Homo sapiens: one gene and its partner. The protein of the gene in region 1 interacts with the protein of each later gene in a pairwise test. Each region holds a gene or a part of one and is shown on either strand. Other genes may lie near its edges. The genes, in order: VIPR1 and PRDM5.

Region 1 (3,919 bases):
TCTCTCCTGCCAGGTGTGTAGGCGGAGCTTCCCTTCCTGTCTGAGAAGGAAAGGCTGGGGGGGACGGGGGGGGCATCTGCAGTCTGCTGAGGGGCAGCACATCGGGCCTGTGCACCCTTATCCTCTCCTTTGCCGATGGGACCTTATTTCCCCCAACTTACAATGGTTCAAAAGGGCCTGAATCTGAGGCAAACAGAGCTGGCCATGGTCAGGGCCAGGTCTGTGTGGTGAGACAGAAAGGAAACAGTTGTCAGCAGGCAAAAGGGGTGGGGGCAGTTGGAGATGAAGCTCCTCAAGGAGAAGCTGTCAGCTCCCACTCTACACCTCCCCATAAGCCTTTGATTTAAAGAAAGCCTCCATCTGTTAGCCTCCGGTGTGTGGGATAGTTTTGCAGCCGAAGAGGGGTGGGCATTGCTCAGGATCTTGGCATGGCTGAGAACCAGGTCCAGGAAGGAGTGGGAGGGGCAAGGCCAGCTCCTCTGCCCCCAGCTTGCTGTGGGACCTCAGGCCTTGGGCTAGACTTCCTTGGACTGACTGCTAAGGCAGGAGAGACAGAGTCAGAGACCCTCCCTATCCACACCCCACCTCTCCTAGCCAGGGAGCAATGGGTTCACACTGCCTGGATCAGCTATGAGGTCAGGTGGCTGGGAGGCCTGAACCAGGAAGAGCTCTGGGCCATGGGAGGCGGGTGAGCATTTAGAATGAATGCTGACCCTACTGAGCACACAAAGCTGTGAAGAAGGAGCTGGTCCTTCAGAGCACGCTGGGAGTATATGCACTGGTGTGGGGAGGTAGGAGGAGGGGGATGCAACCCCAGAGAAGGTGGCAACTTCTGGAGAAGCAGACACAGCAGAAAAAACACAGATAGAGGGCGATACTGATTAATTTTGGGTTGTCCCTGGTGATCAGGTATGAACTTGGGTCCCCATCACCCTCCCAAGTGGCCCTGGGCATATGTGGTCAGCACCCAGTTAGAAAGACTTGTTTCCTAGTACGTCTTCTCTCATGGTCTCTCATGGATGCACTATACTTCATAGTACCCAAAACACTTCCAAGTTCATAGTGGGCCTCTGTTTCTATAATTTGACTATGTCGAGCATACACTTACTGCATTATACAAATTGGAAAAACTGAGACCAGGAGAGGAGGAACCAGAATCTCTTGTTGCCTAAGAGATTTTCTACTGCTCTTGATGGCTGAGAGCATCCTCTACTGCAATGATGAGGTAAGCCTCTCCTAGACCAGGGGGCCCAGGCAACAGAACTCCCAATAGTGGATTTCAGCTAACATGTCCCTGTTAGCATCATTCTCACTGGCCTCTCCTTTACCTCTTACCCTCTCTCCTCCAGAAGGGTGAGAATAGAGGGGGTTTCTTTCTCTCTCATGCTTCCCTCCAGGCCAGGAGGGCTGGGGGCAGAAGGGCAGAGGCACTGCAGCTGTGGAACAGGAGCAGACAAGGGCATAATATTCAGAGGAACCTACAGTCCATCCTCATACTTCCTGGTCATTGTCCCCATCTTCTGTGCCTCCAGCTGCCCCCATGCCACACCCTATCATATCCACATGTGTGGACACACATACCCATGGCCTGTCCCTCCCCTGTCTCCAGAAGGCTAGCCAGGTCCACACTCCTGCTGATCCCCCTGTTTGGAGTACACTACATCATGTTCGCCTTCTTTCCGGACAATTTTAAGCCTGAAGTGAAGATGGTCTTTGAGCTCGTCGTGGGGTCTTTCCAGGTATGGGCTGTTGACTTAAGGCTGCATTCTTCCCTGGCTTTTAAGGGAATTCAACCTGGAGTCTTGGCCCTTGCCACTGGATTCCAACCTTTTTACTGTAATAAGTATTAGATAAGCACCTACTTTGTGCTTAGCTCTTTCCTTAACCAGGGGAACACAGGGGCTGGAGCCAGGGGTGGGGCAGGGCTGGGGGCTTCTGGTCTGTCTACCTCACCTCTCCTGTCATCTTCCTTCTCAGGGTTTTGTGGTGGCTATCCTCTACTGCTTCCTCAATGGTGAGGTAAGCCCCTCCCAGTCCTTGGGGCTTAGGCAATGGAACTCCCAGGACCAGGGTCCGGAAACATTGGTGGGATATGTGCAGAGCAAGGACGGGTTAAACCTTGCTGCTCCAAGTATGGTCCTCAAACTAGTAGCACTGGTGTCACCTAGGCCCTTGTTAAAAATGCGCATCTCTGGGACCACCCCAGACCTGCTGGCTTAGAATCTGCATTTTAATAATTATTTTAAAAAACAAACAAACAGCTTTTTACTAAACCCCAGGGGGATTCCTGTGCACAACAGAGTTTGAGAAACACCTAGTTAAGTGGCTGTGTGCAGTGAGTGGGGAGGGATGAGGGCTTCCAATGAAGGTTGAGTTGCTGTGGAGCTCTGGTTACATTGCACAAAAAACCCACTCAAGTGAGCTGGAGACCCAGGATGGGAAGAATTGGAGTACAGTCACCCCTAGGCAGCATCCCTCCCTCTCCCTGGACTGTATTCTAGGATCCTCTCTGCCTCTTACCTCCTGCCATTCCAAGGCCTCCTTCTGAACCTGGCCTCAACCCAGTCCCAAGTTTGCACCGCCCGAGGCAGCATAGGGGTCCCTCCATTTTGATTTCCTAAAGAGAATAAGACTGGCTAGTTCAGAACCCTAAGTCCAGGGCAGCCCAATCAGCAGTGGAAGAGGCTCCACAGCAGTGGGCCTGACCACCTTCCCCTCTCCTAGGTGCAGGCGGAGCTGAGGCGGAAGTGGCGGCGCTGGCACCTGCAGGGCGTCCTGGGCTGGAACCCCAAATACCGGCACCCGTCGGGAGGCAGCAACGGCGCCACGTGCAGCACGCAGGTTTCCATGCTGACCCGCGTCAGCCCAGGTGCCCGCCGCTCCTCCAGCTTCCAAGCCGAAGTCTCCCTGGTCTGACCACCAGGATCCCAGGGGCCCAAGGCGGCCCCTCCCGCCCCTTCCCACTCACCCCGGCAGACGCCGGGGACAGAGGCCTGCCCGGGCGCGGCCAGCCCCGGCCCTGGGCTCGGAGGCTGCCCCCGGCCCCCTGGTCTCTGGTCCGGACACTCCTAGAGAACGCAGCCCTAGAGCCTGCCTGGAGCGTTTCTAGCAAGTGAGAGAGATGGGAGCTCCTCTCCTGGAGGATTGCAGGTGGAACTCAGTCATTAGACTCCTCCTCCAAAGGCCCCCTACGCCAATCAAGGGCAAAAAGTCTACATACTTTCATCCTGACTCTGCCCCCTGCTGGCTCTTCTGCCCAATTGGAGGAAAGCAACCGGTGGATCCTCAAACAACACTGGTGTGACCTGAGGGCAGAAAGGTTCTGCCCGGGAAGGTCACCAGCACCAACACCACGGTAGTGCCTGAAATTTCACCATTGCTGTCAAGTTCCTTTGGGTTAAGCATTACCACTCAGGCATTTGACTGAAGATGCAGCTCACTACCCTATTCTCTCTTTACGCTTAGTTATCAGCTTTTTAAAGTGGGTTATTCTGGAGTTTTTGTTTGGAGAGCACACCTATCTTAGTGGTTCCCCACCGAAGTGGACTGGCCCCTGGGTCAGTCTGGTGGGAGGACGGTGCAACCCAAGGACTGAGGGACTCTGAAGCCTCTGGGAAATGAGAAGGCAGCCACCAGCGAATGCTAGGTCTCGGACTAAGCCTACCTGCTCTCCAAGTCTCAGTGGCTTCATCTGTCAAGTGGGATCTGTCACACCAGCCATACTTATCTCTCTGTGCTGTGGAAGCAACAGGAATCAAGAGCTGCCCTCCTTGTCCACCCACCTATGTGCCAACTGTTGTAACTAGGCTCAGAGATGTGCACCCATGGGCTCTGACAGAAAGCAGATACCTCACCCTGCTACACATACAGGATTTGAACTCAGATCTGTCTGATAGGAATGTGAAAGCACGGACTCTTA
Region 2 (3,919 bases), on another chromosome or scaffold:
TAAGATGAGTTTTCATAAGCAACATTTAGATTTGTGAAGGAAAAAAATGAATATTTCTAGTACTTATCCTCTTTCCTTTCATGCTTTTGTTTGAGAAAGGAAGCAGCACATAAAATCTAAAACAGAAACTAAGGCTGTAAGACCTTCTGTAATACATGTTCACACTCATGCATGAGTTGACTGTAATAGGTCAGAAGATATTTGAGCAAAGTAATGCACTTACATGTATATGCACTGCATATAAGTGATACTCTTCAGACACACACACACAGACACACACACTCATGTTTCTTGAAAATAACATGTTAACTATACTATGTAACCCCAAGAATTTATCACCAAGAATACTTCCATGGTGCAACTGCTGATTATAATTTACCAATAAATGCCTCTATATAGCCAACAACACACCATGAAAAGGAAAACAAAAGCCAGTTATTGTGAAACAAAGGCAAATTAAAGATACACAAACATCTTGAGTGTTAATATACTAAGAAGACAGTTATTATAAAAGGGTATCTGAACCCACCTACATTATTGAACGTCTCTTAAATTTACTTAGCCAATTTCTAAGTCTCAATTACTTAGACTTTATAGGCACCTAAGGGTCTGGTCTTTTCTCAAGAAAATACCCCAGCCAAAATCTTTCACAGCAGGAAACAGAAGACATTTCAAAGTAGGTACCTGTACTTCAGCTTGTCTGTAAGACTTTTCCTTATGATTATCTATGCTTTCAATTGATCAATCATGCCTAAAATAGTGTCTTTTTTTGGTTATTACTAAGTAATTTAAAAGTTTTAGCAAGCAAATGCTAATATATCTGAAACTACCCATGAATACTTGTCTTTTGGATAAAAATTTACAGCATACAAATAGTCTACTAAGGACTTGTTTTGGTTTCAGTCCTCTGAAAGGAGAGAGTGGTGTACCACTCTCTGGTGTAGGTCCTTCTACACCATTTTCTAAAGATTTCCATGTCTATAAACCTTCAGCAGGATAAAGCCCAGCACCTCTTGCCTGTCTGTTTACTCCACAGCATAGCGACACCACAGTTTTCAGGGTAATTTCCCCAGCAGCCATGTGAACTGTGACTCACTGAGATTACACAAAATTGGAATTTGGACTCCTTTCAAGTTTTACATTCATCACATAATCGGGATATAAAGCATCCCATATAGAGAAAGCAGCATTCAAAGAAATATACAGGATGTGCTTAAATAATACACACTATCAAATTTTACAGCTGTCTTTTTATATTCAAATGATATTAAACACACTATCATATTAAAATGAAAACACTTTAGATCTAAAAATATATTGTTGAAACAAATGATATAGTGAGAAACAAGACCAAAATTTATTTTTATAAAATACAGTCTATAATTTCAGATTCAAAATACTACATATAACTATACTTAAATATCTTCTAAACTATAATTTTAGGATTTATGTTTTTAAAAGTTATCTCTTCTGAGTTTCAAATTTAGTATTTTACAACATTCAAATGTCTACATTGAATCTTTATGTTTCTTTTTAAAACTGGAACTGGGCATGAATATAATTCTAAAATGAGATTCCTGAAGTCAAAGAACTGTGTCTCAGATAACCTTTCTCCTTAACTCATTAGAACCAAATAACTTCCTTAAAACTATACTTCCTTTCTTTTGACTGGGCTTCAGTTAGAGAGGTTCATGAGTTGGGCTTCATTTTAACGTTTTTCTGGTTTTTGGATATTCCTCCAGGTTATTTTGACATCACTATTACATTGTATCATATCATCTCTCCAAACAAGCTGTTCATTGTATGTTGCTGTCAAGTATTTTGCTGAAATATAACCTAAAGGAAGAAATTATGCTTCTTGCTTCAATTTCCCTTAAGCATCAGTGACAGTTTCAATCATAACAATTGCCAAGTTTGTACTTTGTATTCTGGATTCCTAATTATATGGGATGATTGAAGGTAATTCAAAAGTGTTTCAGAATTACCTACTGCCAAGATTCTGGAAAATGTCTTTTGCAAAATGGAATGTTAATGTTCTGAGGACTGTATCTGCACTAACATGTTCTGTGCACTTTTATGGAAGGAGAGGGGAAAGGGCTATGTTCATCCTAACAAATGTGGAGATGCCACTATTGTTCTGCCACTCTGTTGCCAAATACAGAGAATCTATTTGGTTTCTATTTTTAATTATATATATTGGTATACTGTTAATTTCTAAAGCTAAATGGTCTAAATTCAAGAGGGGTAGCCTGCTGAATATTTAAATGTGATGGTCATTTTTGTGTAGAACTTATAAAAGTATTCCAGACCATGAATGTCTGCATCTGAATGATGAGAATAAATAATGTTTCCTAAGAATCCTCTAAAATGAGCAATATTTTAATAGATGTTTTAGTTATCAAATATCTATTTTAAACTCATTTGTTGCACAGAGCTATTAGATAAGCTCAGCTCTTGGTTTGTCTTATAAAATAGCAACTATTTATTTTCCTATCAAACTTGAGACTTTGATAACTTATTCTTATCCTCATCTGCAAAGAAATAGTTGGATATCTTGATTTATTTCTATTTAAATTGGTAAAACCAGCTGCAACAACTGGCATTTGCAAGTGAGTGCACACACACAGACACATACAGACACACAGACACACAGACACACAAAGAATAACAATAAAATAAAAAGGCCTATTAGGGAAGTATATTATAAACTTCATTACAGAGGGATGGCCAAGAAAGAGAGCCATGACTCCTTTCTCCATTTTTATAAGACAGAGCACAAGTTGCATTTTGCAAGGCTATGGAGTTGTATTTTTTTTCCATTTATACCATTTCTTGTTAAAAGTAAGACTTTTTTTTGGTTGCATATGCATCTACAGACTCTAAATGTAGGCAAATAAGAACTATGAGACCAGTAAGTCACTTTTGGCTACTTCTGTTATGCTGATCAGGTGATAAAAATCTGGGATTCATATTAGGAGCCCTTCTGAATAGTTTAATTCCTTTACAGCCCCTATTAGCTGTCAGCTACACCATGGATATTGTCCATGTGCACTTTGAGGTAGTCATTCCTTGTAAACTTCTTATGGCAAAACTGGCATTCTGCCAGGGGACGATTGGGATTATGAGTCATCTTGTGTCGAATCAGCATTTTCTTCAGGCTAAAAGCCAAATCACAAACCTAGAAAAGACCCAAAGACCAACCATATTATACTGAAATAAACAAAATTTATAAACAAAATTTAACACTCACACTATTGGCAAAGAAAATTAATAAGTTACTGCATTTAATCGGTGTCCTTTGTACCCGAGTCACCCTTCCCTTTTCCCAGCTGCTGGATTTAAACATTTCCAGTGAAACAACTCCCTGGCAACAATACCTTTCTTATCCTAATGGAATGTATTTGCCATTTCATATTAAACTATTTAAGCAAAATGCTTTACGGTCTAGATGGCATCTCTCTCTATAACATAAATGGCATAAGACATTTCTCAGCAGTGATCCCTTCAGTTTAGTACCACTTGTGAAATAAAAAGCTAATGCTGTTTTAAGTATCATAAGCAGAAATTTATTACACACTATTTCTTTTTTCTATTTCTTATTATATACACTTTGTTTAACTAAGGAAGGTAACAAGTTTATTTCATATGAGCTCTGCCACATTCCCACCTGGCTCAACATGCATTAAACAGCCCCATAACTAAAAATATTAACACAGAAAATGCAAGGCACAACTGTCCAAGTTACCAAAAAAAATGGAGTTTAAAGTTTGATGTTATTCAGAAAAATTCCACTGACATGAAACTCTTCAAAATCATATCCGTTGTGAAATAAGACATGTTAAATAATGTGAAAACACCATGAAAAATATAATGAGAGAGGAAATGGCTTGTAAAAATACTGTAAAGAAAGCTGGAGTTT

Evidence for each region.
Region 2: the proteins of VIPR1 (region 1) and PRDM5 interact in binary tests that used the Homo sapiens proteins (3 or more experiments, as listed by UniProt).

What each region holds. Positions count from the first base shown.
Region 1 is NC_000003.12:42,533,366-42,537,284, forward strand, and holds part of VIPR1 (vasoactive intestinal polypeptide receptor 1 isoform 1 precursor), read left to right. Parts: intron 1-1,609; coding exon 1,610-1,739; intron 1,740-1,977; coding exon 1,978-2,019; intron 2,020-2,724; coding exon 2,725-2,916; 3' UTR 2,917-3,919. UniProt on the Homo sapiens protein: G protein-coupled receptor activated by the neuropeptides vasoactive intestinal peptide (VIP) and pituitary adenylate cyclase-activating polypeptide (ADCYAP1/PACAP).
Region 2 is NC_000004.12:120,692,098-120,696,016, forward strand, and holds part of PRDM5 (PR domain zinc finger protein 5), read right to left. Parts: intron 3,179-3,919; coding exon 3,014-3,178; 3' UTR 1-3,013. UniProt on the Homo sapiens protein: Sequence-specific DNA-binding transcription factor. Represses transcription at least in part by recruitment of the histone methyltransferase EHMT2/G9A and histone deacetylases such as HDAC1.